3 linked regions of the Homo sapiens genome follow. The main gene of each other region encodes a partner of the protein of the gene in region 2 in a complex. Each region holds a gene or a part of one and is shown on either strand. Other genes may lie near its edges. The genes, in order: NUP160, NUP107 and NUP98.

What was found.
Region 1: NUP107 (region 2) and NUP160 share a complex: the UniProt entries of both Homo sapiens proteins name them as parts of the nuclear pore complex.
Region 3: NUP107 (region 2) and NUP98 share a complex: the UniProt entries of both Homo sapiens proteins name them as parts of the nuclear pore complex.

The regions. Positions count from the first base shown.
Region 1 is NC_000011.10:47,844,182-47,855,216, reverse strand, and holds the start of NUP160 (nuclear pore complex protein Nup160), read left to right. Parts: upstream 1-6,898; coding exon 6,899-6,998; intron 6,999-7,257; coding exon 7,258-7,369; intron 7,370-11,035. UniProt on the Homo sapiens protein: Functions as a component of the nuclear pore complex (NPC). Involved in poly(A)+ RNA transport.
Region 2 is NC_000012.12:68,723,054-68,733,185, forward strand, and holds part of NUP107 (nuclear pore complex protein Nup107), read left to right. Parts: intron 1-2,673; coding exon 2,674-2,743; intron 2,744-3,445; coding exon 3,446-3,564; intron 3,565-4,297; coding exon 4,298-4,336; intron 4,337-8,056; coding exon 8,057-8,207; intron 8,208-8,553; coding exon 8,554-8,666; intron 8,667-9,583; coding exon 9,584-9,686; intron 9,687-10,132. UniProt on the Homo sapiens protein: Plays a role in the nuclear pore complex (NPC) assembly and/or maintenance. Required for the assembly of peripheral proteins into the NPC. May anchor NUP62 to the NPC. Involved in nephrogenesis.
Region 3 is NC_000011.10:3,695,931-3,706,062, reverse strand, and holds part of NUP98 (nuclear pore complex protein Nup98-Nup96 isoform 1 precursor), read left to right. Parts: intron 1-706; coding exon 707-863; intron 864-1,224; coding exon of another isoform or gene 1,225-1,317; intron 1,318-3,170; coding exon 3,171-3,600; intron 3,601-5,223; coding exon 5,224-5,453; intron 5,454-6,714; coding exon 6,715-6,981; intron 6,982-10,132. UniProt on the Homo sapiens protein: Plays a role in the nuclear pore complex (NPC) assembly and/or maintenance. NUP98 and NUP96 are involved in the bidirectional transport across the NPC. May anchor NUP153 and TPR to the NPC.

The sequences.
Region 1 (11,035 bases), on a different chromosome or scaffold from region 2:
CTACTTGGGAGGCTGAAGCAGGAGAATCACTTGAACCTGGGAGGCGGAGGTTGCAGTGAGCAGAGATCAGGCCACTACACTCCAACCTGGGCGACAGAGTGACACCCTGTCTCAGAAAAAAAAAAAAAAAGTAAAAAAAGAGAAATTTATAGAAAATATTACCTGAAAGGTGAAAACAATCCAGGGTGTATAGTTCCCAAGGATAAGTCCAAAGCACAGGAGGGTCAAGTCTAGGTGGGAGCCCTGGGCTTTCAGGGCCCCTCAAAGGCCCTGGAGTCTAAAGTCATGGTGGTTTCCTAAGTGGGTAGAAAGAATACTGAAAACGGAATTGAGAAGTCACTGACATACTTCATTTATTCCACAATTCTGCTTTTTTTTTTAGAAACAGAGTCTCGTTCTGTCACCCAGGCTGGAGTGCAGCGGCACAGTCATAGCTCATTATAACCTTGAACTTCTGGGCTCAAGGGATCCTCCTGCCCCAGCCTCCCAAGTAGCTGAAACTACAGGTGTACACTACCATACTTGGATAATTTTTTTTTTTTTTGTAGAGATGGAGTCTCACTATGTTGCCCAGGGTGGTCTCAAACTCCTGGGCTCAACCAATCCTCCTGCTTCAGCCTCCCAAAATGCTGGGATTGTAGGTGTGAGCCACCATGCCCAGCTGATATTTTTAACCTATGGGCAAAATGAAAGTAAAGCCATGTTTTCCAAAATATATTCTCAAAGAACAATGGTCCAATGAGTTGCCCCTTGAAAAGAGTATTCTGTATGTCAAAGAGTCTGGAAAGCAGTATCATGCATAAGGCCTTCTTGGAACTTCACAAAGCTATTATATTAATGTCTTTGAAAAGTTCTTCAAGAAAGAAATATGTTTAACTTTATTTATCATCATTTCCCACACTTGTTTAAACCACCAAATTCTTCTTTCAAGGAGTAGCTATCAAGTTGGTTATGAAAATCTGCTTAAAGTTCAATTAACAGTATTGTTCAGCTGAGCGCAGTGGCTCACACCTGTAATCCCAGCACTTTGGGAGGCCAAAGTGGGTGGATCACGAGGTCAGGAGTTCAAGACCAGCCTGGCCAAGATGGTGAAACCCTGTTTCTACTAAAAATAAAACAATTAGCCGGGCGTGGTGTCGGGCACCTGTAATCCCAGGTACTCAGGAGGCTGAGGCAGGATAATCACTTGAACTCAGCAGGCAGAGATTGCAGTCAGCTGAGATCATGCCCCACTGCACTCTAGCCCGGGCAACAGAGCGAAACTCCGTCTCAAAAAAAAAAAAATAAAGAAAAAGTCCGGGCGTGGTGGCTCACGCCTTCGGGAATCCCAGCACTTTGGGAGGCCGAGGCGGGCGGATCACGAGGTCGGATGTTCAAGACCAGCCTCACCAACATGGTGAAACCCCATCTCTACTAAAAGTACAAAAATTAGCCAGGTGTGGTGGTGCGTGCCTGGAATCCCAGCTACTCAGGAGACTGAGGCAGGAGAATCGCTTGAACCTGGGAAGTAGAGGTTGCAGTGAGCAGAGATCGCGCCACTTCACTCCAGTGTGAGCAACAGAGCGAGACTCCATCTGAAAAAAAAAAAAAGTATTTAAATAAAACTTGCTGCACAATATTGGTAACATTCTGCATTTTGTTTCTAAACGAAGTCACTACCTAACCACTAGATGGCAATATGATTCAATTTATGTTATAACCATCCCCCAGAACATTAATAGTTCAAAGGGTATTTGAGTTTTCCAAAAATGCATATATGCACTTATTCATTCATTTAATTATTCCTCAAACATTTATTAGGTAACGTGAAGTTCCCGGAATTCTGATGGATGTTGGAGATAAGACAGTGATCTAAAGCTAAAAAGTGTTCACTGTCAAAAAATGTAATTCCTAGATTCCTATAAAACCGAAACATGCCTCATCAATTTAACATTTTTTTCTGAGAAAAAAATGAAAAAACATTACTACATTAAATATGTACATTGAGGCCGGGCGCGGTGGCTCATGCCTGTAATCCTAGCACTTTGGGAGGCTGAGACGGGTGGATCACTTGAGGTCAGGAGTTCGAGACCAGCCTGGCCAACATGGTAAAACCCCACCTCTACTTGAACCCAGGAGCTGGAGGTTGCAGTGAGCCAAGATTGAGCCACTGCACTCCAGCCTGGGCGACAGAGTGAGATTCTGTCTCAAAATTAATTAATTAATTAATTTAATTTAATAAAAATAAAAATAGCAATCATGTATTTAGCTCATTAATATGCAATTTGGACAGGGCTCAGTGGTCATGACTCATCTGTGCTCTACAAAATATCTGGGACCTGGGGACTTACCAGGCATCTCTCACTTCAAGTAGAATTAGAGTCTCTGTGTGTGGTCTCTCCCTGCAATCTGCCTAGGATGGCCCCGGCGTAGCCAAATTTCTTACATGGCAGCTTGCTTCCCCTATAGCCAGTCTTCAAAGAGAGATGTAGACTCTCTTAAGCTAGGCTGGCACAGCATCACTTTTGCTGTATTATATTCCTTATAGCAGTTACAGAACCCTCCAGATTTAAGGGGAGGGGACAAAGAAGGCTACACTTCTGGATGGGAACAATGTCAAAGAATTTGTGGCCATCTTTCTTTTGCCATATGGATATATGAGATTTGGGTGTTGGGATTAAAAGAGAAAAGTCCAGGGTAATTACTAGATTTCTAGACTGGGCCACAGTGGTGATGTCCACACAGATATAGACTACATGTGAGAGTATATAGTGAGACTATATAGAGAGGGGTAACATTTTGGATATGTTGAATTTGAGATGTCCATGGGAAATCCAAGGGGCATCAAGGAGGCAACTGAATATAAAAGGCTGAGAACTCGGCAAAAGAGGTCTGACCTCTAGATATGAAAGTGGAAATAATCAGTCTTCGGAATAGTTCTCTCTACTGTGGCACATCAGTGTCATGAGCAGTTATAACTTAGATAACCAGGAATTTGTAAATAATAACAGTTGAAGTGTGGCCAGGCGCGGTGACTCACACCTGTAATCCCAGCACTTTGTGAGGCCGAGGCAGGCAGATCATGAGGTCAGGAGATTGAGACCATCCTGGCTAACACTGTGAAACCTCATCTCTACTAAACATACAAAAAAAATAAGCCAGGCGTAGTGGCAAGCACCTGTAATCCCAGCTACTCAGGAGGCTGAGCAACTGGAACAGTGCTGGTAACTGCGATGGGGAAAGTAAGTGTGGGGAGAGAGGTTAGGACTTCAGTTTCAGACATGTTACATCTAAGATACAAAATAGGCCGTTGAATATATAAACCTGGACTTCGGGGGAGAAGCTTAGACTGGAGGTATACATTTGGGGATGATCGGCATATAACAATGCAGTATTTAAAGCCAGAAGACTGGGTGAGATTCTCAGGGGAGTGTTTGTAGATGGAAAGGACCAAGAACTGAACTCTGGACACTCCAACATCAAGAGGTTGGGGAAAAGAGGAGCATCTAGGAAAGGAGTCTGAAAAGGAACAGTTAGTGAAATAGGTAGAATCAAGAGAGTGGCGTCCTTGATGCCACATGAAGAATGTGTTTCCACGAGGAAGGAGCAAGCAATTGGTCAAATTCTACAAGTAGTCAAATAAGCTTAGAAATAACAGTTCAGGCCAGGTGCTGTGGCTCACGCCTGTAATCCCAGCACTTTGGGAGGCAGAGGTAGGAGGATCGCTTGAGGCCTGGAGTTTGAGACCAGCCTGGGCAACATAGGAAGACCTTGTCTCTACAAAAAATAAAAAATAAAAAATTTGGCAGGGCATGGTGGCACAAGCCTGTGGCCCCAGCTACTCGAGAGGCTGAGGCAGGAGGATCACCTCAGCCCAGGAGTTTGAGGCTGCAATGAGCTGGGATCACATCACTGCACCCCAGCCTGGATAACAGAGCAAGATTATGTGTCAGAAAAAAGAAATAGCAGTTTAGTATTAGACAGATAATGTGGATGCCATTGATAACCCGGAAAAAAGCAGTTTCAGCAAGGCAGTAGAAGCAAAAGCCTGAAAAACATGGATTTAATGAGGCCAGATGCAGTGGCTCACGCCTGTAATCCCAGCACTTTGGGAGGCCGAGGCAAGTGGATCACTTGAGGTAAGGAGTTCGAGACCAGCCTGACCAACATGGTGAAACCCTGTCTCTACTAAAAATACAAAAAACATTACCCAGGCAGGGCAGCGCATGCCTGTAATCACAGCTACTTGGGAGGCTGAGGCAGGAGAATCTCTTGAACCCAGGAGGCGGAGGTTGCAGTGAGCCGAGATTGTGCCATTGCACTCCAGCCTGGCCAACAATAGCGAAACTCCATCTCAATAAAATATATATATATATATATATATATATATATATATATATATATATATATATATGAGAATGAGAGAGAAGGAATTAAAACACTCTTGAGTTTTGCTGTGGGTGAGAGGAGAAGAGATATGGAGTAGTAGCTGCAGAGAGTGGAGGTCGAGGGAATGTTTGTATGCTTAGTACATACAGTACTAAGAGAAAAGGGGAAAAGACTGAAAATGGAAATAATTGAATTGCTAGAATGATGTCCTTGAGCAGGTGTTCTAAGGAAGTAGAAAGGTTGTCTCTGCATAAGCTCAGAGACAGTTTATAGTAACAGGAAGGGAAGGCAAAATATGTGGTTACAGATGCTGGTAGGTGGGGAGATGTCATTATAGAGGAAGTCCTCCCTTCCTCCTTCCTTCTTTCCAGATGGGTGTCTTTCTGGCCATGCTGGAGCACAGTGGCAGGATTGTAGCTCACTGTATCCTCCAACTCCTGGGCTCAAGAAACCTCCTATAGCTGGGACTACAGAGGCACACAACTATGCCTGGCTAGTTTTTTAAAAATTTTTATTAGAGATGGGGGTATGTTGCCCAGGCTTGTCTTGAACTCCTGGCCTCAAGCCATCCTTCCATCTCAGCCTCTGCTTTAATTTTCTAAATGAAGAAGCAAGCTGAGAGTCAGGATGACAAAGGAGGCAATGGAGGTTATAGGAGTTATGAAATATTCATTTAGAACAGTAAATGGAGAAGGCAAATACAATGTGTTTGCTGGGCAGCATTATGGGCCCACTCAAGGTACATGGTCCTGATGGAGTTACAGGGAGGCATGTCAGTATGGGTGTATAGTTTTCTGTTTTCTTTCTTTTCTTTTTTTGAGACGGAGTTTCGCTCTTGTTGCCCAGGCTGGAGTGCAACGGCGAGATCTTGGCTCACTGTAACCTCCACCTTCCGGGTTCAAGCGATTCTCCTGCCTCAGCTTCCCAAGTAGCCGGGATTACATGAGCGCACCATCATGCCCAGCTAATTTTTCTTTTTTTCTTTCTTCTTTTTTTTTTTTTTTTTGAGACAGTCTCGCTTTGTCACCCAGGCTGGAGTGCAGTGGCGCGATCTTGGCTCGCTGCAACCTCCACCTCCCAGGTTCAAGCGATTCTCCTGCCTCAGCCTCCCGAGTAGCTGGGATTACAGGCGTGCACCACCATGCCCGGCTAATTTTTTGTATCTTTAATAGAGACAGGGTTTCACCATGTTGGCCAGGTTGGTCTGAAACTCCTTACCTCGTGATCCACCCACCTCTGCCTCCCAGAGCGCTGGGATTACAGGCGTGAGCCACCGCGCCCGGCTAATTTTTCTATTTTTGGTAGAGACCGGGTTTCACCATGTTGGCCAGGCTGGTCTCGGACTCCTGACCTCAAGTGATCCTCACGCCTTGGCCTCCCAAAATGCTGGGAGCCACGCCCGACCCGGGTGTATAGTTTTCTCCAGTCATGTTCAGCTACAGATTTGAATGTAGTCGAAGTTGTAGTTTTTACCGATGAAGAGTTAGGCAATGAAGTAATTTAATGGTATTCAGGATAAGAAAGAAACACCAAAGAAGTGTGGGACAGTGAAGATTTTGTAGAACAATGGATTCCAGGTAGAATGAGGGGACTGCACTGCCAAAGTTGGTGTCCCAGAGGGAGTGAAGTGGAAAGATAGAAAATGATGGTCGGAACCAGATAAATGAAACGGAGAATGACAGGGAATGGTTGTGGTCACTGGTAATAGAAGTGCTTTAACTTCTATTGGCTATCACTAAGGAACAAAACCTTCCCCGCTGGAGATTAGCATTTTCCTCGATTTTGAACATCTACTCCCACAATATCTTCTAAACACCCACTATGGGCCCTTACTGCATTGACAGCCAAGTGCAAGATCACGGGTGGAAGGAATGGCAAATTCCTTTCACGTATCCAAGTGAGTAGCACTCAGGTAACCTCAGCAAGTGGCAGCACCAAGGTTTACCACATTACGTTTCATTATACAGGAATACACGAATACAGTCTCTTGGGGAGGGGAAAGACCAAAACCAAAGGCCTTTCCCTCACTACCCCTTCCTCACCCCGCCATCCCAAGTGTCGCCACTGAAGAGCGAAGGGAGGATCGCCAAAGATTTACAGACGGACACCCTAACCGAGGGAGAGGTGACCATAAACCCGGGATCCGGCAGAGGACGCCGAAAGGCCGGGACTCCCCGGACCTCGCCCCTCCTGGTCGACTGAGCCCCGCGTTTTAGAAACAGAAACAAACCCGGCCCCGCCCCCTGCCCTGCGGCCGCTGAGAAAAGAGCACCGCCCTCCGGAGGCGTTCCAGCCGGCCACTGGAAGGTTCCCGCAGATAGAGTCTGCCTCCCCTGCCCCCTTCTCTTCTGGATTCCTCGCTGCCCACCCTCATTCTCCCGGTGGAAGCCTCGCAACGAAGGGCCGGAGCCGCCTTTCTGCTCCCGGAATGCTTCACCTGTCCGCAGCTCCGCCCGCCCCACCCCCGGAAGTGACGGCGACCGCGCGGCCCTGCCTTTGTTCCGTTGGGCGTCGCGGCGACGGCGGGAAGATGGCGGCGGCGGGAGCCCTGGAACGGAGCTTCGTGGAGCTAAGCGGAGCTGAGCGCGAAAGGCCGAGGCACTTTCGGGAATTCACAGTCTGCAGCATTGGTACGGAAATGGCCAGGGAGGGTGCGATCCCATCTGTCCCCTCGGGCTCCTCTCATGGGTCCCAGGGTCCCTGACGCCCTGTTTCATCCTCCTGAGTCCACATGCCTCTAGCCCCGGGATCAGAGATTCCTTGATGTCCGACGTTTTCCTCTTTTCTTTGTATGGGTTGTCAGTCTGTCACTCTCTGCTTTGTCAGCTCCCTTAGTCCCTGTCATTTCTCAGAAGACGCGTGTGCAGGCTGACCACGTTCATTTTGCAGGGACTGCAAATGCCGTGGCTGGCGCCGTAAAATACAGTGAAAGCGCGGGAGGCTTTTACTACGTGGAGAGTGGCAAGTTGTTCTCCGTAACCAGAAACAGGTTCATTCATTGGTAAGTGTTGTGGTTCGCCAAACTCCCCTGGAAGGTAGGGTTTGGTGTATAAATTTTCGTCGCTGTACCCAAAGTGCTATTCTAGAAGCGGTAATTGACACTTAGGGAAAGAGAAAGATTGTTTTTTCAGTTCGTATCAGAATCGGGAAAACTGAGACACAGAGTTCTAGAAGAGATACCTCTCCCCCTCCCCCCCCCCACCCCCACACACACATACACCAAGCAACACCAGAAGCAGAGGAAATGTAGCTTAGGGGAATAAAGCCCATAAGACCAATTTTAAACATGAACCCGTTATGTTTTTATAGTGCTTTACAGCTTCCTTCATTGTACAAATACGTTCGAGCTTCAATATGTCAGGCATTGTGCTAGGTACCAGGACGAAATGAACAAAACTGCAATTTTCATCATGCAAGACGTTGTAGCAATGTCAGAATAGATGTAGACCCACTTTTCATGGGGAAATTTTTTGGAGGAAAACTTGCCCTAGAGGAAAAATATACGGGTTATGAGAGGCTAATAAGAGGACCAAATATAATTAGTGGGGCAGGGAAAGGCTTTAAGGAATTCACAGTTACCCTGAGATCTAAAGGACACGAGGTTAGCCAGGCATGGGGAGTGGACAGAGAGGAGTCCAGCAAGTAGGATCACCATATGCAAAGGTCATGAAGTGGAAAGAATGTGGCGGGTTTGGAACTGACCAAAGATCTGTGTGGCTTAAGTGCAGTGGGTAAAACAGAAAGTGATGTGAGATACTGAGGCTGGAGAGGTAGGCAGGACTCGGACCATGAGGGACCCTTAGGCCATTTTTAAGGATTTTTGGATTTTATCCTAAGTACATTGAGTAATAATTGAAAGATTTTTAAAGAGTTACTAACATCAAAATTGCATTTTTGGATGGGAACAGTTAACACTAGGGATTCCAAAAGGAGGGAGGGAGGGGAGCAAAGGTTGGAAAACCTATCGGATACTGTGTTCACAACTTGGGCGGCAGGATCATCAGAAGCCCAAACCTCATGTATATAGGAATATACACACAATATACTCATGTAACAAACCTGCACATGTACCCCTGAATCTAAATTTTTTTAAATGTATTTTTAGAAGATCTCAGTCTACTTTGTGGAAAGTGGATTTGGATTAGATGGGTATAATACAAAAAAAATTTTGCTTTTATCATGGCCCAAGTAAGGGTTGCTGGTGGCTCAATTGTGGGAATGACTAGAAATAGAAAAGTAGATGGATTCAAGATACCTTTGGAAGATAGATTCACTAGGGCTTGGTGGTGGATTGAATATGGGGTAAGGGATGGTAAAAGAAGAGAGAACAAGGACAGCTCCCTGGTGTCTCATGTGACTAACCAGATGTGAGTGGGGAGGGGTTGCCATTTACAGAGATACCCGGAAGATGGATTTTGGATAGATATGAATAATTCTATTGGACATAGTAAATTTGAAGTACCTGGGGAGCAGCCCTTTGGAAATGTCAAGTAGGCATTGAAGTTTACAGGTCTAAGGCTCAAAAGAGTGACTTTATGTTAGAGATACAAATTTCATTTAATTAAATATTTTGGCTGGGCACAGTGGCTCACACCTGTAATCCCAGCACTTTGGGGGGCTGAGGTGGGAGGATCTCTTGAGGCCGGGAGTTCAAGACCCCATTTCTACAAAAAAAATTTTTTTTTCTTTCTGCTTTTTTTTTTTTTTCTTTTTGAGAGACAGTCTGGCTCCATTGTCCAGGCTGGAGTGCATTGGTGCAATTATGGCTTACTGCAGTCTCCGCCTCCTGGGTTCAAGTGACCCTCCCACCTCAGCCTCCCAAGTAGCTGGAATTACAAGTATGCACCACCATGCCCAGCTAATTTTTCTATTTGTTTTTGTAGAGATGGGGTTTTGCCTTGTTGTCCAGACTGGTCTTGAACTGCCAGACTCAAGCAGTGCCCCGTTCTCGGCCTCCCAACTTGCTAGGATTACAGGCGTAAGCCACCGTGTCCAGCCTGATTTTTTAAAATAAGCCAGGCGGAGTAGCGTGTGCCTTTCATCTTAACTACTCAGGAGGCTGAGGTGGGAGGATCCGATCATGCCACTGCACTCCAGGTGGGAAAAAGGGTAAGACCCCATCTCTTTTAAGAAAACAGGAAGAAAGAAAGAAAATTTGCTTGCCTAATGTATTTCAGTCCGTTTTTAGGGAACAGGGATATAGCAGGGAACAAAACAAAGTCCCTACTCTTATGGAGGAAGATAGGCAACAACAACAATAACCAAAAAACCCCAAGTACATGCAGTTTTGTTACAGGAAAAGGGTGCCGATCCAGACCCCAAGGGAGGGTTCTTGGATCTCGCACAAGAAAGAATTCAGGGCAAGTCCGCAGTGCATAGTGAAAGCAAGTTTATTAAGAAAGTAAAGGAAGCCAGGCATGGTGGCTCACACCTGTAATCCCAGTACTTTAGGAGGCCGAGGCAGGTGGATCACCTGAGGTCAGGAGTTCGAGACCAGCCTGACCAACATGGTGAAACCGTGTCTCTACTAAAAATACAAAATTAGCTGGGCATGATGGCACATGCCTATAATCCCAGCTACTTGGGAGGCTGAGGCAGGAGAATAGCTTGAACCCAGGAGGTGGAGGGTGCAGTGAGCTGAGATCACACCATTGCACTCCAGCCTGGGCAACAAGAGCAAAACTGCATCTCAAAAAAAAATGTAAATAAAAGAATGGCTACTCCATAGACAGAGTAGCTCCGAGGGCTGCTGGTTGCCCATTTTTATGGTTATTTCTTGATGATATGCTAAACAGGGGTGGATTATTCATGCCCCCACTTTTTAGACTCCTGATGTAACTTCCTGATGTTGCCATGGCATTTGTAAACTGTCATGGCGTTGATGGGAGTGTAGCAGTGAGGACAACTGGAGGTCACCCTTGTCGCCATTTTGGTTTTGGTGGGTTTTGGCTTGCTCCTTTATTGCAACCTGTTTTATCAGCAAGGTCTTTATGACCTGTATTTTGTGCTGACCTCCTATCTCATCCTGTGACTTAGAATGCCTTAACTGTCTGGGAATGCATCCCAGTAGGTTTCAGTCTTGTTTTACCCAACTCCTATTCAAGATGGAGTTGTTCTGGTTCACATGCCTCTGACAGTTTGTCAGTTGATTAATGGAATAGGAAAAAGGGAACAGCATAAGAGGGAAGAGGAATACCTGTGGGAGTTAATGTTTTATGTAGGGTGGTTGGGCAAGAGCCAGGGGTAAGCTGACATTTGAGCAGAAGAAAGGATATCTGGGGAATGAGTATTTCAGGTGGAGCCTTCCAAGAAAAAGGAATAAAAAGTGCAAAGAACCCTGAAACAGGAGCCTGTTGTGTTCAAAGAGTGGAAAGGAGCCAGGAGTCTGCAGCTGAGTGAACAAAGGGTAGAATAATAAGAAAGAGATAGTTGAGGGCCAGATCAGGGCTTTGTTGGTTATTTTAAGCTTTGGCTTTTGCTCTGAGTAAGATGAGAAGAAGCTGTGGAAGGTTAAAGTGGAGGAATGACGTGATCTAAGATCTGGGCTTCTAAAGGATTGCTTTGACTGCTGTCTTGAGAATAGAGCGTGGTGGGGGAAAGGGTAGGTGCAGGGAGACCAGTTAGGAGGCTGGTGCCACAATTCACACATGATGGTGGCTTAGATCAG
Region 2 (10,132 bases):
GTATACCTTAAAAATATATACAATAAAAATAAATAAAAAGGCCAGGTATGGTGGCTCACATCTGTAATCCCAGCACTTGGGAGGCCAAGATGGGAGGATCACTTGAGGCCAGGAGTTTAGACCAGCCTGGGCAGCATAGCAAAACTTCGTCTCTAAAAAAAAAAATTAGCTGGGTATGGTGGTGTACCCACTTGTAGTCCCAGCTCCTCCAGAGGCTGAAGTGGGAGGATCGTGGCTTCAGTGAGCTGTGATTGTACTACTGCACTGGAGCCCAGGAGGTCGTGGCTTCAGTGAGCTGTCATTGCACTACTGCACCCCAGCCTGGGCAACAGAGCAAGGCCCTGTCTCAAAGAAAAAAGAAAAATTAAATAGGTAGGTAGGTAGGTAAAGAAACATTTTGAAATGGATGCTGCATGCCTGTAATCCCAGCTACTTGGGAGGCTGAGGCAGGAGAATCACTTGAACCCAGGAGGTAGAGGTTGCAGTGAGCCAAGATCGCAACGTTGCACTCTAGCCTGAGCAACAAGAGCGAAACTCTGTCTCAAAAAAAAAGAAAAAATTGAAATGGAAAAATAATTTATTACCTGGTTGTGGCAGTTAATTCATACTTCCACAAGTAATTTATTGAATTATACATTCTCACCAGCCTCAAATGTCACACTTTTTATGTTTTGCCAATCCATCAGAGTAGGTGGGAAATAGGAACTTGCTGTTCTACTCACATTTTCTTGTCTATTCATAAGGCTGAGCATGTTTCCTTATGTTTATTGACCATTTGTGAATTTTTTGTTCATATCTTTTAGCTATTTTTCTGTGGTGTTTTATATTTTTCTTATTATTATATAGGAGCACTTGATATAGTAAGGAAATTAATGCTTTTTCTGTCAAGAGTTTATTACCAGTCTATTATTTTGGATATTCTAGCTAATGAAATAAAACAAGAAAATTAAGGAACAGATATAAATACTAGAAAGGGAAGAACATTTATATATGATAAAAATATTAGTCTAGAAACTTAAAGCTCAGTAAGTTACTAGAATTAATAAGAGAATTTGTTAAAGTAGCCAGATACAAGACAACGTTTTTTTTTTAAAAGTCAAGTCTTTCTGTGCTTGTTATAACTATTTAGAAAAGGATTTAGTACCCCCTCCCCAAAAGTTCCATTTAAACGAGTGACCAAAACTAAAGAGATCTAGGAATAAAAAATTAATCCAGGGTTTCAAGCCCTTCATTTAAAAAACTATAGAATCTTACTGAAGGACATAAAATAAGACATAAATAAATAGATATATCATGTTCCTCGATGAGGGCATTTAATATAAATGTCACTCATTCCAAAATTAGCATAAAAACCTAATGCTTTGGGGTATTACTTCTGGACAGAAAATTTTGTCAAGTAGAAGAATAATTGAGAATGGCAAGAGCATTTTGAAAAAGAACAATCTGGGTTTGGTGGCTCACACCTCTAGTCCCAGCAGTTTTGGAGGCTGAAGCAGGAGGATCACTTGAGCTCAGGAGTTTGAGACCGGCATGGACAACATGGCAAAACCCCATCTCTACAAAAAAAATTTTAAAAATTAGCCGGGTGTGGTGGCATGCTCCTGTAGTCCCAGCTTCTCAGGAGGCTGAGGTGGGAGGATCACCTGAGCCCAGGGAGGTGGAGGCTGCAGTGAGCCGTGATTGTACCACTGCACTCCAGCCTGGGCAACAGAGTGAGACTCTGTCTCAAAAACAAACAAACAAACAAAAAAAACCACACTGAAAGCAAAAAAAGTAGTTAGAGGGTACTTGCCTTACTCAATAATAACACTTAATATGAAGATACAACAAAACAGTATAGAACTGACATGAAAATAAATAGATGAGTGGAACACAAAGTCCAAACTAGATCCAAGTATATATGAGAACTTAACAGATGTCAGAGGTGACATTTCATTTCAGAGGGAAAGGGATGGTTTATTTAAATAAATGGCGCTGGCATAATTGGCTTTCCATCCAGAAGAAAACAAAGCTAGATCCTACTTCATGCCATGTAACTAAAATAAATTCCATATAGAGCAAAGGTTTGAATGTAAAAATTAATAAATGCTGAAAGAAAATTTAGACAGCCAACTAAATAAAAATTAAAATACGTTTGACAACAAAAAATGAACTATATTCTTCAAAAAATCAAGCTGCAAATAAGTTAGAAAAGGTTTTCTCTACTCTGTACCTGATCACTATTTTTTTTTTTCACCCTTGGTGCCATGTACAGAAGAGAATACTCAAAGAATGCTTTCATGTACTGCTGCTCATGTTGAAAGAAATCTTAATAGTTTATTTTGCTTAGGTCACATGAGTTCTTCCTTTCTCGTCCACCATGTGTAGTGCCAAGGTAAATAGGAATAAAATATAAGAATAAAAGTTTAATACCATTGAGAGATTAAATTGTTATAACATAGGTCTCTACTTTCAAAGATGCTTTTCAGTTCTGGATTTGTAAGCTGTGAGTATATTCCAAAGGCAGTATCCTTTCCATGTTTTATTTTGTTTTGATCTTTCTAAGGCCCTTCATTTCCAGCTTTTTCTTTCTATATGTTCCTTCAAAAGTTTAACATTTTTAGTTTAACAGTGAATATATACTACAGAATGACTGCTAGAAGATTTATGGAAAATTAAAAACTTTTTTTTCAGAGAGTTCTGGAAGAGAATCAAGAACATTATCATATAGTTCAAAAGTTTCTTATCCTGGGAGACATTGATGGTAAGATATGGTTTTATTTTACTTTGTGTTTTTTGTGTGTGTTTTTTTTTTTTTTTTTGAGACAAAGTCTCACCCTGTTGCCCAGACTGGAGTGCAGTGGCTCAGTCTCAGCTCACTGCAACCTCTGTCTCCTGGGTTCACAAGATCCTTCAGTCTCAGCCTCCTGAGTAGCTGGGATTACAGGTGTGCACCACTACGCCTGGCTAATTTTTGTATTTTTAGTAGAGACGGGGTTTCGCTGTTGGCCAGGCTGGTCTCCAACTCCTGACGTCAGGTGATCTTCCCTCCCTGGCCTCCCAAAGTGCTATATGTTATAGACATGGGATTGCAGGCATGAGCGACTGCACCCAGCCAGTTTTATTTTACTCTTTATGAGTTCTTCATTGTCTTATAGTGATTTTTTAAAGTTATCCAAACAATGCATGTGACTTACCATATCTTTTAATCTTGATAAATATTAACCTATTTGAATGCAACTATTTACTTTATGTCAGAGGTGACCTTTCATTTGGTTTTTATAAAATAAAGTTCGGATTGAACCCAAACTCTGTTTCAAAGAGGGTGTAGAGTTATATCATGGCTATTAATTATGAGACAGTGACTTGAAAGCACTATAGGAGTGAAATAAATGTTCTTGGTAATGTTTATTTTTTTCTTTTGATTTTATTCCTATTGTTGAATCTTCACTTTGATGGCTTGTAGGTTTGATGGATGAGTTTAGCAAATGGCTTTCCAAAAGCAGAAACAATCTACCTGGACACCTGCTTCGCTTTATGACTCACCTTATTTTGTTTTTCCGTACTCTGGGACTACAGACCAAGGTATATAAAAATGAACGATTTCTTCTTCTCTGTAATGTTGATGCTATATACCTATTGTCAAGAAAACACTACTTTTTTTATTATTGTTTTCTAGAAATGGTGATAAGGAATCAAAAGTCTTCCATATAGTCTTGTATAGTCACTCAATGATAACTCACTGAGAGTGGCCCTTTAGGGTTCTAGTCTGTGGCCACAGAATGCTGTTGGTTAACTGGTTTTTAATAAATTCATAACTTTATCCTTGTCTGTACCCAGCTTTAAATCAACCAGCTAAGCTAACTAAACAAAGTGAGTGCTATGTGAGATTTTAAAACTTTGTTGGTTGTTGTTTTGTTGCTTTTTTTCTAAAAAAGAAGATAACATTTTGGTCAGAGTGCATGTAGAAAGTGAATGATACAGTAGTTGAAAGCTTGGGCTTTGGAGTAGGAGTCCTGAGTATATACCCTTATTCAGCAGCTTCTATCTGTGTAACTCTGGGTAAATAAAACTTCCCTTGGTCCTAATTTCATCCTCTGTAAAATGTGAACAATAATAGTAACTACCCAAAAAGAGTTATGGTAAGGTTAAATCAGGCAGTAGATGAACTTTGGTAAGCACTTAGCTTGGTGTATAGTTACTGCTCAGTGGTAAACATTACAATTATTAAATTATTTAATAATGGAATTTGTATCAAAAATTTTGTTACTTTCATATAAGCAGTGTATTTATAATTATGTCTTTTTTTCCTATGAAGGAGGAAGTTTCTATTGAAGTTTTAAAGACATACATACAGGTAAACTTTGAGAACCTACAACCTGATTGTTTTTTACTATTTTAATGAAAACAAAACTCAGAATGATGCTATTTTAATTCTCAGTGGTAAGAAAGCATCAGAATCCATAAGAGATCTTTTAATTATCAGCACAGTTGACCTTTGAATAATGCAGGGATTAGGAAAACAACCCCCACCGCCCCGCACAATCAAAAATTCACTATAACTTTTGACTCCCCAAAAACCTAACTACTGATACCCTACTGCTGACCAGAAATCATACCAATAACATAAACACACAATTAACACATTTTGTATATTACATGTATCATATGCAGTCATCCCTCAGTATACTTGGGGGATTGGCTCCAGGACCCCCACATATAACAAAATCTGTGTATACTCATGTCCCACAGTTGGCCCTGCAGAACCTGCATATACGAAAAATTGGCCTTCCATATTTGCAGATTTCACATCCAGATAACACTGTATTTTCTAAGTTGAGTTGAAAAAAATTTATGCAGAAGTGGACCTGCACAGTTCAATCCCGTGTTGTTCAAAGCTCAACTGTACTGTATTCTTATGATAATGTAAGTTAGAGAAAAGAAAACATTACTAAGAAAATCATAAGGGGCTCGGCGAGGTGGCTCATACCGGTAATCCCAACACTTTGGGAGGCAGAGGCGAGAGGACTGCTTGAGTCCAGACGTTTGAGATCAGCCTGGGCAACATAGGGAGACCCTTCTCTCTACTACAAAAAATTTTTTTAAATTAGCAGGGCACAGTGGTTCATATCTGTAAACCCAGCTACTCGGGAGGCTGAGGCAGGAAGATCGAGTGAGCCCAGGAGTTGGAGGTTGCAGTGAGCTGTGATCTCGCCACTGCCCTCCAGCTGGGTGACAGAGTGAGACCATCTCAAAAAAAAAAAAAAAAAACAATCAGGCCAGACGTGGTGGCTTGCGCCTGTAATCCCAGCACTTTGGGAAACAGAGGTGGGTGGATCGCTTGAGCCCAGGAGTTCAAGACTAGCCTGGGAAACAGCGAAAACCTGTCTTTTTTTTTTTTTTTTTTTTGAGACGGAGTCTTGCGCTGTCACCCGGGCTGGAGTGCAGTGGCACCATCTCGGCTTACTGCAGCCTCCGCCTCCCAGGTTCAAGCGGTTCTCCTGCCTCAGCCTCCCGAGTAGCTGGGATTAAAGGTGCTGGCTAATTGTCTGTATTTTTAGTAGAGATGGGGTTTTGCTATGTTGGCCAGGCTGATCTTTAACGCCTGACCTCATGATCCACCCCCCTCAGTCTCCCAAAGAGCTGGGATTACAGGCGTGAACCACGACACCCGGCCTGGACCTGTCTTTTTTTTTTTTTTTAAGTTTAAAAATTAATAAATAACTTTTAAAAGTTAAAAAAAGAATAAATAATAAAAATCATAAGGAAGAGAAACTACGTTTATAGTACTATACTGTACCTGTTAATACTGTAAGTTTATGTTGTCTGTTTACAAGATGAATTGTCTATTTGAAATGGACAACCACAGTTACAGACCTCAATCTACAGTATATCAAGCAATTCACCTTTTTCTTGTAATCTCATGACTTTTCTCTGCTTCTTGGGAGAACTTCCAGTATCACTACTGGCACTTTGTATGGCTCCTGTGGTGTTATTAAGGGTTTATAGTATTGCACTAAAAAAAACAAGACCTGGGAAAGCTTACTTTTTATTGCAGTATGCAACTGAAGAGACCAACAGCTCTTCAGAGATGATTAGCATCACACGGCATTTTAAATGGATACTCACAGCACTTGAGCTCACCCCAGTAGTGGCAGGAAGTGGCTCTAAAGTTATTACAGTAGTATAGTATCTACTACAGTTAGTTGTATGCAGTTATGATTTAATACTGCATCTGTATGCTTGTTTACATTTCTCTAGACCACAATGTATGGTCTGTAAATGTGTGTACGTTTTGATAAATTTTAACTTTTTATAATAGATTCATATATATTTTATAGTAGTAAGTGATAAAATAGACCAGAATCTACATATAATGGATTTATGACATACCTTTTTTTTTATTTTTTATTTTTTTTTTTGAGATGGAGTCTCACTTTGATGCCCGGGCTGGAGTGTAGTGGCATGATCTTGGCTCACTGCCACTGCAGCCTCTGCCTCACCGGGGTCAAGCGATTCTCTGGCCTCAGCCTCCCAAGTAGCTGGTATTACAGGTGTGCACCACCACGCCTGGCTAATTTTGTATTTTTAGTAGAGACGGGGTTTCACCACGTTGGCCAGGCTGGTCTCAAATTCCTGACCTCAGGTGATCCAGCAGCCTCGGCCTTCCAAAGTGCTAGGATTACAGGTGTGAGCCACTGGCCTACCTAGCTTTTTCTTAATTTACTCAGTATTTCTAGGCTATTAATTTGTTTGTGAGTCTTTTTTTTTTTTTTGAGACGGAGTCTCACTCTCTCGCCCAGGCTGGAGTGCAATGGCGCAATCTCAGCTCACTGTACTGTACCCTCTGCCTCTTGGGTTCAAGCATGAATATTTTTCAAATTGTCACAAATCTCCAAAAAATGTTCTAATATATATATATTTAAATTAATGTATTTATTTATTTAGAGATAGGATGTTGTTCTGTCACTCAGGCTAGAGTTCACTGGCTAGATCATAGCCCATTGTAACCTCAGACTCCTGGGCTCAAACAGTCTTCTCCCCTCAACCTCCCAAGTAGCTGGTACTATAGACACGTGCCACCATGGCCAGCAAACTTATTTTTTATTTTTTTGTAGAGACTGGGTCTCACTATGTTGGCCAGGCTAATCTCAAACTCCTGCCCTCAGGGGTGATACTACCTTTTTTTTTTTTTTTTTTTTTGAGAGAGTCTCACTGTCACCCAGGCCGGAATGTGGAGTGTGGTGGAATGATCTCAGCTCACTGCAACCCACCTCCCAAGTTCAAGTGATTCTCCTGCCTCAGCCTCCCAAGTAGCTGAGATTACAGGCATGCGCCACCACGCCTGGCTAATTTTTGTATTTTTAGTAGAGACAGGGTTTTGTCTTGTTGGCCAGGCTGGTCTTGAACTCCTGGCCTTAGGTGATCCGCCTGCCTCAGCCTCCCAGAGTGCTGGGATTATAGGCAAGAGCTACCAGGCCTGGTCTCAAGTGATACTTCTGCCTCAGCCTCCCAAAGTACTGGAATTACAGGCGCAAGCCACCATACCCAGCCAATTTTCCAATATATTTATCGAAAAAAATCCACGGTTCAAACCTGTGCAGTTTAAGAGCCAACTGTACTCACTTTTTGGAATTTAAAATTATTCTGGGCTGGACACAGGGGCCCATGCCTGTAATCCCAGCACTTTAGGAGGCCAAGGTGGGCAGATCACTTGAGCCCAGGAGTTTGAGACCAGCCTGGGCAGCATAGTGAAAAGCCATCTCTACTAAAAAAAAATACAAAAAATTAGCAGGGCATAGTGGCATGTGCCTGTAGTCCCACCTACCCGGGAGGTTGAGGTGGGAGGATCACCTGAGCCCAGGAGACAGGTTGCAGTGAGCCATGATCATGCCACTGTACCCTAACCTGGGTGACAGAGTGAGACCCTGTCTCAAACAAATAAATATAAAATAAAATTATTCTGTTTAGCAACACAAATCCACATCTGTATGAACCTCTCCTGAATACATTTGAAATTTTGAAGTATACTTTTAATTTTATTATTGACATACTTTGATCTTTTTCTATTTTTTAGCTTTTAATAAGAGAGAAACATACAAATCTTATAGCATTTTATACCTGTCATTTGCCTCAAGACCTAGCTGTTGCCCAGTATGCATTATTTTTGGAAAGTGTTACAGAATTTGAACAGCGCCACCATTGCCTGGAGTTGGCTAAAGAAGCAGGTAAAAATGGTTGAAAACTTTGTCTTTTGGCCTTTCTAGGCAAATGTTCATTTTGGCTGTAGTAACATTTGTCCTTATAGTTTTAAATCTTATTTCTGTTGAGGGGAAAAGAGGAATAAAATTTTCAGGGAATTTCTGTTTTAGGACTAAAGTTACTTATGCTGTAACTCATATGTAAAATATCTTTTAATTCTGGCATTTTCTTTTATATAAATATCTTTCATATTTTACATATTTTATTTTTAAGGAATTACTGTTCCAAATTTACTGAATCATTATGACTATTTAGAGAATATTAGTATCAATGATTAATCTTTGTTTTTTGTCGCTTCAAAAAATTATTTAGATTTGGATGTTGCAACAATAACAAAAACTGTAGTTGAGAATATTCGAAAGAAAGATAATGGTGAATTTAGTCATCATGACCTGGCCCCAGCCCTAGATACTGGCACTACTGAGGTAATTTGGGATGGGGGGGCAGAGGTTTCTATAACTTCTAATAATCTTTTATGTTATTCCTTGGTGAACTTCTCCCTTCGTAAAAGAAGTTCTATTAGGTTTTCTTTTTTAAGAATGTGTCTTTGTCAGCCCAGACCTTTTAAATTTAAAGTCTTATGTAAAGGATTACTTATAGTAGTATGTTAAAGGAGCTTCTTTAATAGAAAAAAATCTCAGCTTTGGCTTGTTGCTCATCAGGTTATTTTAAATACTTGATTAATCACTAACTTATGTAGCTTGCTTACTCATATTTTCAGAAAGGAATAGAAAGTTATATCTAAGAAAACTATTTTAGAGTAACATTTAAAGGAATCACGTGGTTAAGTTGGTAAGGCATACAATATATAATTCCAGATTAATATTTTCTATAATTTATTTTTATTTTTATTTTCTTGAGACAACAAGGTCTAGCTCTGTTACCAAGGCTGGAGTGCAGTGGCGCTATCTCTGCTTACTGCAACCTTCGCCTTCTAGGCTCAAGCCACCCTCCCTCAGTCTCCCGAGTAGCTGGGATTACAGGCATGTGCCACCATGCCTGGCTAATTTTTTGTATTCTTTGTAGAGAAGGGGTTTTGCCATGTTGTCCAGGCTGGTCTCGAACTCATGAGCTCAAGAGATCCGCTCGCCTGGGCTTCCCAAAGTGCTGGGATTACGGGTGTGAGCCAGCATGCCCAGCAGTATTTTCTATAATTTAATAGAGAGCTGTTAAATATGAAAATACACTAAGGAAAGTTAGATGCTTTCATAATTTTGTATAACTTGAGAGAAAATGATGTTTACTGGAAGTACAGGTGTAAGTTAATTCTACTAATTTGTAGAATATCTTTAAAAAAAAAACTCTGATATTCCTTTTTCTTTTTTTCCCCTTTAATAAATAGGAGGATCGTTTAAAAATTGATGTAATTGACTGGTTGGTATTTGACCCAGCGCAGAGGGCAGAAGCACTGAAACAAGGCAATGCAATTATGAGAAAATTCTTGGGTATAGTATATTTTTATGCAGCTTCAAACTCCTGGGCTCCATTCTTCTTCCTACCTCAGCCTCCCAAGTAGCTGGGACTACAGGCACCCACCACCACACCCACCTAATTTTTAAAAAATTTTTTCTAGAGATGGGGTCTCACTATGTTGCCTAGGCGGGTCTCGAACTCCTGGCCTGAAGCAATCCTCCCACCTCAGCCTCCTGAAGTGCTGGGATTATAGGCGTGAACCACCACACCCAGATTTTTTATTCTTTTTTAAAACGTTTTTGTTCAAATTCGTGTATTTTTGAATTTGGGGTGGGGGGTTGCTTTTTGTTTTTGATCCTTCCATAGGGAGGAGAAAACCAGCCACTCTTTATCTATCAAACCTGGTATTATGAAACAAAATATATTTTAATGGTGAATTTTCATTGTCCTAATCAATTTTGCAAATAATCTCAAGGCT
Region 3 (10,132 bases), on a different chromosome or scaffold from region 2:
TGTGTAGGTGAGATTACAGGCGTGTACCACCACCACACCTGGCTACTTTTTTTTTTTTTTTTTTTTGTATTTTTAGTAGAGAAAGGGGTTTCTCCATGTTGGTCAGTCTGGTCTCGAACTCCTGACCTCAGGTGATCTGCCCGCGTTGGCCTTCCAGAGTGCTAGGATTATAGGCATGAGCCACTGAGCCCGGCCCCAATCCCAATTTTGTAACTTTATTACTTTGTGCAAGTCATATAATAGCTGTGAGTACTGATTTTTCTCTATAAAATATTACTTTGTCTACATCACAGGGTACTTTTAAGACTCTGTATGTGCTCCACAAAATTTAAAAATTTTAGTACCTAGTAGCACAGGTTTCTTTAAGCTATGTCTTTACTTCCCTTTATCCCAGTGCCTTTTGGTGTGTTATGTGTTTAACCTTTGGCTTATGTTTGACTTTAAAATTATTTTATCAGCAAACATAGCAACTGCTGTGTGCCAGGCTCTGGTGAGACGCTATAGATACAAAGAAGAGAAGTATTATATGAATTCTGCCTTTCAGGCACACACAGTGTAATGGGGTCCATCCATCACACAAATATACTAGCTCTGTACACAGCCTTGAGGAGGAACAATATTTTTGGTTGTTGTAAACTGCATTTTTTTTTGGTATGGCCTTTTGATTCTGGGAAGCACATTCATTCTATAGATATTGCCTTTTTAGATCATGAAAGCATCATTGCTTACTGATGAAGAAGATGTAGATATGGCACTGGATCAACGCTTCAGTCGCCTGCCTTCCAAAGCAGATACTTCTCAAGAAATCTGTTCTCCCAGACTCCCCATTTCAGCATCCCACTCGTCGAAAACTCGTTCACTAGGTACAGTATAAAAGATGCTATTTTACAAGAAAGCTGTACAGTCATCAAGTCCTGCTTTTCACTTTTCTTCTTCTAACCCAAGTGGACTTCTCTAGCAAGTATCTGCCAAACAACTATACCTGTGACATAAGGGTGCTAAGAGAAATTGTACTTATAAGTATTCATTAAGAGTAGCCAGGTTTTTTGTTTTTAGAGACAGGGTCTCTCTCTGTTGCACAGACTGGAGTGCAGTTATGCAGTCGCACTTACTACAGCCTTGAACTCTTGGGCTCAAGCAGTCCTCCTGTCTCAGCCTCCTGAGTAGCTAGGACTATGGGCATATACCCACTACTCAACTAATTATTTTTTTAAATGTTTATAGAGATGGATCTTGCTATCTTGCCCCAGGCTGGTCTTGAACTTCTGGCCTCAACTGATCATCCTGCCTCAGCTTCCCAAAGTGCTGAGATTACAGGTATGCGTCATTGCACCTGGCAGGAGTGGCCGGTTTTTAAGAACTAGAATTACCTCTGTTTGTGCAGATGCAGAAGTGTATGGAGAAAAAAAGCATTTGTGCTTTGTTTAGGTTCATGTTTTTGTTTGCTTATGAATGTGGATTAGATAGTAAGCTCTGACTTCCCAATTTTTATAACATTACTTAGTTCAGCAAGTTGTCCTGCACTATACTTGTTTTGTGCAGTCCTTACAGCACTGTCTTATTGTCTTCTAGGGACAAGTATTGCTTCTCGTAATGCACAGAGCACATCAGATTTCTACTTTTCACTAAACCTTTTTAAATTCCCAGGGAAGTGATTACATATTTGATTTTAAAGTTTTCTCTTTTCTAGTGGGCTTGTAACTATGTGGGATTGGAAATAAAGTTTTAATATCAGCAAAGAACTTAAGCAGATGTAGTTTCAACATATTTTGAAAGCCAGAGGAACTGGCAGAGAGACATTTGTTTATATTGCTTTAAAAACTAAATATTTTTCAATTCTTTTGAGTTCCCTTATTATCAACTTTGCTTTTTAAAAATATTTTTAACTTCCCTTTGGTATAGAGGAAAGAAAGAAAATATATTAACCAAAAAAGTATCAGTTAAACATTCTTAATAACCTTTTCCGTAATGGATACTACATGAAAATCTGGTACTTCAATAATATTTAACTCCATGCTTTAGACAAAAGCCACGTAAAATTGGGAAACAGGCACTGGTAATAAGAACTGTCCTTCAGCCGGGCACAGTGGCTCATGCCTATAATCATAGCACTTTAGGAGACTGAGGAAGGAGGATGGCTTGAGGCTAGGATTTGGAGAGCAGCCTGGGCAACATAGCAAGACTCCATCCCTATAATAGCTAGCTAGCTAGATAAAAATTTAAATGTTAAAAAAATTTTTTTTTAAAGAACTGTCCTTCAGAAGGTCACATGTACAATTGTAAGATACCTAGTGTGTTTTTATTTCGTTGACTGTAGCATTGTTTAGAGTAGAGTAGGAATTTGAGTTTTGATCTTACTTTTATATGTGCTAAGAAATCGTTACCTTTAGGATTCTGATAAGGGCATGAGGAGTGGTGCCAGACTTAACCTTGGCTTGTCTCCTGGTCCTGTCACTTTGTAGATTTGGACAAGTCACTTATCTGAGCTCAGTTTTCTCATATATACAATAGGAATGATAATAATGCTAATCATTTAAAAGTTTTTGAGGCCAAGTGCAGTGGCTCATGCCTGTAATTGCAGCACTCTAGGAGGCTGAGGCAGGTGGATCACGAGGTCAGGAGTTCAAGACCAGCCTGGCCAACATGGTGAAACTCTGTCTCTACTAAAAATACAGAAAAGTTAGCCAGGCATGGTGGCGGGCACCTGTAATCCCAGCTACTCGGGAGGCTGAGGCAGAGAATTGCTTGAACCCAGGAGGCAGAGGTTGCAGTGAGCCAAGATCATGCCACTGCACTCTAGCCTGGGCTACAGGGCGAGACTCTGTCTCCAAAAAAAAAAAAAAAAAGTTTTTGAAGAGTGAAATGAAATAACATATACAAATGACTTATACAGAGCCTGCTGCATATTTTTAAATAATATTAATAGTGTTGTTGCTTTTATTATTGTTGTAGATATCATCATCATCATTAGAATCTTGTCCTGATTTCCTAGTTCAAAGAGTAATTTCTGCAAAATCTGACTTAGCCTGCTTCTGGTCATCCACATCTGATATAAGTAGTTTGATTAAACATTGAATGATTTCAGCCTTACTGATTTTTGTTATTGTTCAAGAAACAATAGCTTGTGTTTTGTAATAGTCTTTCTCCCCTTCATTCCCGCTTCATTTCAGTTGGTGGGTTACTACAATCAAAATTTACAAGTGGAGCTTTTCTTTCACCAAGTGTCTCTGTGCAAGAATGTCGTACTCCCAGAGCAGCATCTTTAATGAATATCCCATCCACATCCTCTTGGTCTGTCCCTCCACCCCTGACTTCTGTGTTCACAATGCCCAGCCCAGCCCCTGAGGTTCCGTTGAAAACAGTGGGTACACGTAGGCAACTAGGCCTAGTCCCTCGTGAAAAGTCTGTCACCTATGGCAAGGGAAAACTCTTGATGGACATGGCCCTATTCATGGGACGCTCATTTCGTGTTGGTTGGGGCCCCAACTGGACTCTTGCTAATAGTGGAGAACAGCTGAATGGCTCTCATGAACTAGAAAATCATCAGATTGCCGATTCCATGGAGTTTGGATTCCTGCCCAATCCAGTAGCTGTTAAACCGTGAGTCACATTTCTTGATGCTTTTTGAGAAAGGCAACATGATAGGTGAAAAAAACTAATCAGGAGGATAGGGCCCTGCTTTGTCATCTTTCTAGAGAGAGAGAGAGAGAGAGAGAGAGAGAGAGAGAGAGAGAGAGAGAGAGAGAGAGTGTGTGTGTGTGTGTGTGTGTGTGTGTGTGTGTCTCAGTTTTGCTCTGTTTCCCCGGTGTGTGTGTGTGTGTTTTTGAGTCTCAGTTTTGCTCTGTTTCCCAGGCTGGGGTGCGGTGGCACGATCTCAGCTTGCTGCAACCTCTGCCTCTCAGTCTGAGGCTCTTCTCCTGCCTCAGCCTCCTGATAAGCTGGGATTACATGCACACGCCACCACACCCAGCTAATGTTTCCTGAGCTCAAGTGATTGTCCTACCTTGGCCTCCCAAAGTGCTGGGATTACAGTCATGAGCCACCTTGCCCAGCCTATCCTTCATTTTTAAAGTTGACTTTGAAAAAATAAAAAACAACCTGTAATCCCAGCACTTTGGGAGGCCAAGATGGGCGGATCACGAGGTCAGGAGATTGAGACCATCCTGGCTAACACGGTGAAACTCTGTCTCTACTAAAAATACAAAAAAAATTAGCTGGGCGTTGTGGCAGGCGCCTGTAGACCCAGCTAGTCAGGAGGCTGAGGCAGGAGAATGGTGTGAACCCGGGAGGCGGAGCTTGCAGTGAGCTGAGATCGCGCCATTGCACTCTAGCCTGGGCAACTGAATGAGACTCAGTCTCAAAAAAAAAAAAGAGAGAAAAGAAAAAGAAAAAACAACAATGTCTCTTGAACCTCACAATTAAGAATACTGATCCTAAACTTAGTTATTCTAGGTTAAGCATTATCTTGTGAATTTTGAAGGTTATTAATATCAATCTTAAAAATTAGATCAAGGGGCCGGGTACGGTGGCTCACACCTGTCATCCCAGCACTTTGGGAGGATCACTTGAGGTCAGGAGTTCGAGACCAGCCTGGCCAACATGGTAAAACCCTGTCTCTACTAAAATTACAAAAATTAGCCCAGGGTGGTGGTGCATGTTTGTAATCCCAGCTACTCAGGAGACTGAGGCAGGAGAATCGCCCTTGAACCCAGGAGGCAGAGGTTGCAGTAAGCCAAGATCACGCTACTGCATTCCAACCTCAGCGACAGTGTGAAACTCCATCTCAAAAAAAAAAAAAAAAAAAAAATTGGAACAAGCCTAGCTTAGCTATATGCTCATTGTAATTTAGAATCAGTTCTTTAGTATCTAGAAGCTTAGCCTCATGACTTTTGATACCCAAGTATAATTTGAGAAACAGGTATCCCACAATAGCTTTTGGCCCTTGAGTTTTAGCCAGTTCTAAATCTGTTAGGATTCTCATGCTTGTTATAACCTGGCCTAAGAAGCCTTTGTGTTCTGAATGCACTGATCAGATGATTTTTTTTCCCCAGTATATAGCAGATAAGTTCAGTATAGTTTAAGAAACAAAATTTCTTTAAAACTACAGTGAAATGTTTGCATTCCGTTTGTAATCATAAAAAGAAACAGTGGTTTGGTTGAAGTAAAAATCCTAGCTTCTGTCTTAGGTTCATTTTCTATTCTATTCCTCATTTGCTCTTGTAGCCTAACTGAGTCCCCATTCAAAGTTCACTTAGAAAAACTCAGTTTGAGACAAAGAAAGCCAGATGAAGACATGAAATTATATCAGACACCTCTGGAGCTCAAATTAAAACACAGCACTGTCCATGTGGATGAACTGTGTCCTCTCATTGTCCCCAATCTGGGAGTTGCTGTCATTCATGACTATGCAGATTGGGTTAAAGAAGCATCAGGAGACTTACCAGAAGCACAAAGTGAGTACACACTATGTTTCTAATGTTTGATGTCCCAATAATAGTGGTGGTAGCGTATGTTCACGGGAGGATGAATTTCCTGGCACCAGTCTAGTAGGTAAATGCCTGTGCTTGTCATTTTCTGAGGTTGAGTTTAACTAAGCAGATTCCCAAGCAAGAAGAAATTGTCACTATGTTCTTGTCACTTTGTTCTTTTACCCATTAATGTACAAATTCTTCCACAAAGAACTGTAGCAAGTCAAATCCTTGGATTTATAAAATTGAATTTCTTACCTAATCCAGAGAACATAGGGAGAGAAATACATTCCTTCTTGCTTTACTTTTTTTTTTTTTTTTTTTTTGAGACGGAGTCTCACTCTGTCACTGTAGCTGGGAGTATAGGCGCGCGCCACCACACCCAGCTAATTTTTGTATTCTTAGTAGAGACAGGGTTTCACCATATTGGCCAGGATTGTCTCGATCTCTTGACCTCGTGATCTGCCTGCCTCGACTTTCCAAAGTGCTGGGATTACAGGCGTGAGCCATCGAGCCCGGCCCCTTCTTGCTTTTCTAAATCCTATCCATTCTTCCATATCCAGCTCAAGTACTGTTGGTCTTCTCAACAGCTTTGTTGTAATTCCTCTTCCTGGCTTCTTTCAAGATTACCTTTCTCATCTATCATGACCATGTTTTTCTGAATCAATACTTTGATAAAGGGGTTATCTAATTTATTAATATTTCAAACAGTAGAAAAATCATTTTGTTTAGCAAATCACGTTTATTGAAAAATGGGCTGTTTTAGAATGTCCTATGCCACACGTTTTGAGATTTGTTTATGTTCCTTCAGTTCTTTGTATTTACTTAATCGTCTCATTGTCTTTTCAAATGTGTAAGTTATTTTACCAGTGCATACTTGTAAGTGGCTTAAATGATAAACAGTACTTTTGTAGATTGATTTTTATAGACAGAATTTGATCAAAGTAGATATCATCTGAGATGACACTAGCCATAATTAGGCTTGGGGAACCTGTTTAACGGTTACATTTGTTATGTAAGTACCACAGAAACATGATATGAGCAAGCATTTATTTATACTATGTACTTCTGGAAATTGTAAGACGAAGTTGAGTGAGGTAGAGACAGATTCAGGGTAATCAGCTTGAGTGGTTGTTTGAGATGTCTATTAATTTATGTATTTTTAACATCACAGTTAGAAGGATGCCCTCTGTGAAGTTGTTGTAAGACTTTGTCTCGTAACATTGTTTTTCTCTTCCTGCCTTAGTTGTGAAGCACTGGAGCCTGACATGGACACTATGTGAAGCCCTATGGGGCCACCTGAAGGAGCTTGACAGCCAGCTAAATGAACCCCGTGAATACATTCAAATTCTGGAGCGAAGAAGAGCTTTCTCCCGCTGGCTATCCTGTACTGCCACACCTCAGATTGAAGAGGAAGTCTCCTTAACCCAAAAAAACAGCCCTGTGGAGGCTGTATTCAGCTACCTCACAGGCAAAAGGATCAGTGAGGCCTGCTCTCTGGCCCAGCAGTCAGGTGGGGAAGGCATATGGTCCTTCTCTGCGCCTCTGTCGCCTTCCTACTCACTGCCTCCTACCGCTCCCCGCTAATTGTGCATTTCCCTTTGGCTTCTAGCCTATGAGTATTAATTGCGGACTTCCCAGAAAGATTGCTGGTTCCCGTGGAATATGTAATATAACATAAAATTTAACTTTTAATCAAGTAAACAATGTTTAAGGTCCTAAACAGAGAATTAGAAGACATAGTGCGGCTGGGCTCAGTGGCTCATGCCTGTAATTCCAGCACTGTGGGAGGCCAAGGTGGGTAGATCACACCCACCTATTCCTATAGAATAGGAACCATGACTTTTTTTTTTTTTTTTTTTTTTTTTTGAGACAGTTTCACTCTTGTTGCCCAGGCTGGAGTACAATGGTGCGATCTCGGCTCACTGCAACCTCCTCCTCCTGGGTTCAAGCGATTCTCTTGCCTCAGCCTCCCAAGTAGCTGAGATTACAGGTGCCTGCTACCACACCTGGCTAATTTTTGTATTTTAGTAGAGACAGGGTTTCACCATGTTGGTCAGGCTGGTCTCGAACTCCTGACCTCAGGTGATCCACCCACCTTGGCCTCCCAAAGTGCTGGAATTACAGGTGTGAGCCACTGCACCCAGCCGAACTATGTCTTCTAATTCTTTTTTTAGGACCTTAAACATTGTTTACTTGATTAAAATTTAAATTTTATATTACATTTGTAATAAAACTAGAAAGCATAGATAAGCTATCAATCAAAATCACCCAAATCCTGTGACTACTACTCACTGCAAACATTTTAATGTGCAATTTGTACTTAATTCTTTACTTTGTAATACATACAAATATGTCCAGACACTGTGACATATGCTTGTGAACTTTTCAAAGGTGATATCCTGCTGTGTATTATATTCTGTTCTTTTCATGTGGCACATTACAAATGCCCTGTAATACAGATAATTATCAAATACTTCTTAGCATTCTTTTATGTATAAATGTACCATAGTAGTAAATTTCTTCCTTCACATTGAGACTTTTTTTAAAACTATAAACAGTACTCTGAATTGCTATAAAATATGTTCTATATCAATTCATTCAAATAAATATATAGAAGTTGAATTTCTGGGTTGAGGTACTCACTGGCTTTTTAAAAGGAATTTATATGCATATATTTACTTCTTTAAGTTCCCTTTCACTAATGAGGCAATTCAGCAAGTACTTAATGACTGCCTAGATATAAATCTTTTTTTTTTTTTTTTTTTTTTTTTAAGACAGAGTCTGTCTGTGTGTTTACCAGACTGCTGGAGTGCAGTGGAACGATCTCAGCTCACTGCAACCTTTACTTCCTGGGTTCAAGCGATTCTCCTGCCTCAGCCTCCTGAGTAGCTGGGATTACAGGTGCCTGCCACCATGCCCAGCTAGTTGTCTTTTTTTTTATTTTTAGTAGAGACAGGGTTTCGCCATGTTGGCCAGGGTGGTCTCAAACTCGTGACTTCCAGTGATCCACCCACTTTGGCCTCCCAAGTGCTGGGATTACAGGCATGAGCCACCGTGCCTGGCCATAAAGTCTTGATAAGAATACAGGATGGCATAGTTCAGCTTAATCTAATATGATCAGATCCTTATTCAAACCTTGATTGTTGGAACCTAATTTATCCAAAGCCAACTAATTGGAGCCATCGACTGGATTTATTTTGAAGAGTTTTGCCACTTTTGGGATTATAAGGAACAAATCACAGGAAAAGCCAGAATCAGTAAGCTATATAAAGGGCTTGTTGCATTCCACTGTCACTACACATTTAGCCTGGTAGCTTCCTGTTTTCTTTTCTTTTTATTTTTTAAATAGAGATGGGGTCTGTATGTTGACCAGGCTGGTCTCAAACTCCTGGCGTCAAGCAGCCCTCCTGCCTCAGCCTCCCAAAGTGCTGGGATTAGAGGCGTGAGCCACCACATCCAGCCTCCGTCTGGTACTATTTATGGTCTTTGTGCATTTGTACAGTGAGAATTTATCTTTGGGATTGATCTTGTATGAACTTATTATGAATCATTAAAAAAAGGTTATGCTCACCAGGACACCAACATGTAGTAGGAGAGGATCTTAAGGCATGCCAGAGTCAGATTCTTAGGGCTGTTGATTCATAAACTCCACTTTCTTCCTGTTTATTTTGACTGTAAGGCTAAACCTCTGGTAAAGGTACTGCCTTTTAGGTTACTAAAAGCTTTTGCTTTACTACTCCCCCCCTTTTTTTTTGTTTTTTGTTTTGTTTTTGTTTTTGTTTTCGAGACAGTCTCGCTCTGTACCCCAGGATGGAGTGCAGTGGCATAATCTTGGCTCACTACAACGTTTGCCTCCTGGGTTCAAGCGATTCTCCTGCCTCAGCCTCCTGAGTAGCTGGGATTACAGGTAACGTGCCACCACACTCGGCTAACTTTTGTATATTTAGTAGAGATGCCGTTTCGTCATGTTGGCCAGGCTGGTCTCGAACTCCTGACCTCAGGTGATCCGCCTGCCTCAGCCTTCCAAAGTGCTGGGATTACAGGCGTGAACCACTGCCTCCGGCCTTTTTTTTTCCCTCCCCCCTGCACCAAGACAGAGTCTTGGTCTGTCACCCAGGCTGGAGTGCAGTAGTGCAATCTCTGTTTACTGCAACTTCTGCCTTCTGGGTTCAAGTGGTTCTCGTGTCTCAGCCTCTTGAGTAGCTGGGACTCCAGTCACGTGCCACCACGCCAGGCTAATTTTTGTATTTTTAGTAGAGACAAAGTTTCATCATGTTGGCGAGGTTGGTCTCGAACTCCTGACCCCAAGTGATTTGCCCGCCTTGGCTTCCCAGAGCACTGGGATTACAGGTGTGAGCCACCGTGCCCAGTGTTTTCCTCCATTTTTCCTTTTTATGTTTAAGATAGAGTCTCGCTCTTGTTGCCCAGGCTGGAGTGCAATGGTGCGATCTTGGCTCACTGCAACCTCCAACTCATGGGTTCAAGTGATTTTCCTGCCTTAGCCTTCCAAGTAGCTGGAATTACAGGTGTGCACCAGCACGCCCGGTGATTTTTGTATTTTTAGTAGGGACGGGGTTTCACCATGTTGGTCAGGCTGGTCTCGAACTCGTGACTTCAAGTAATCCACCTCCCTTGGCCTGCCAGAGTGCTGGGATTACAGG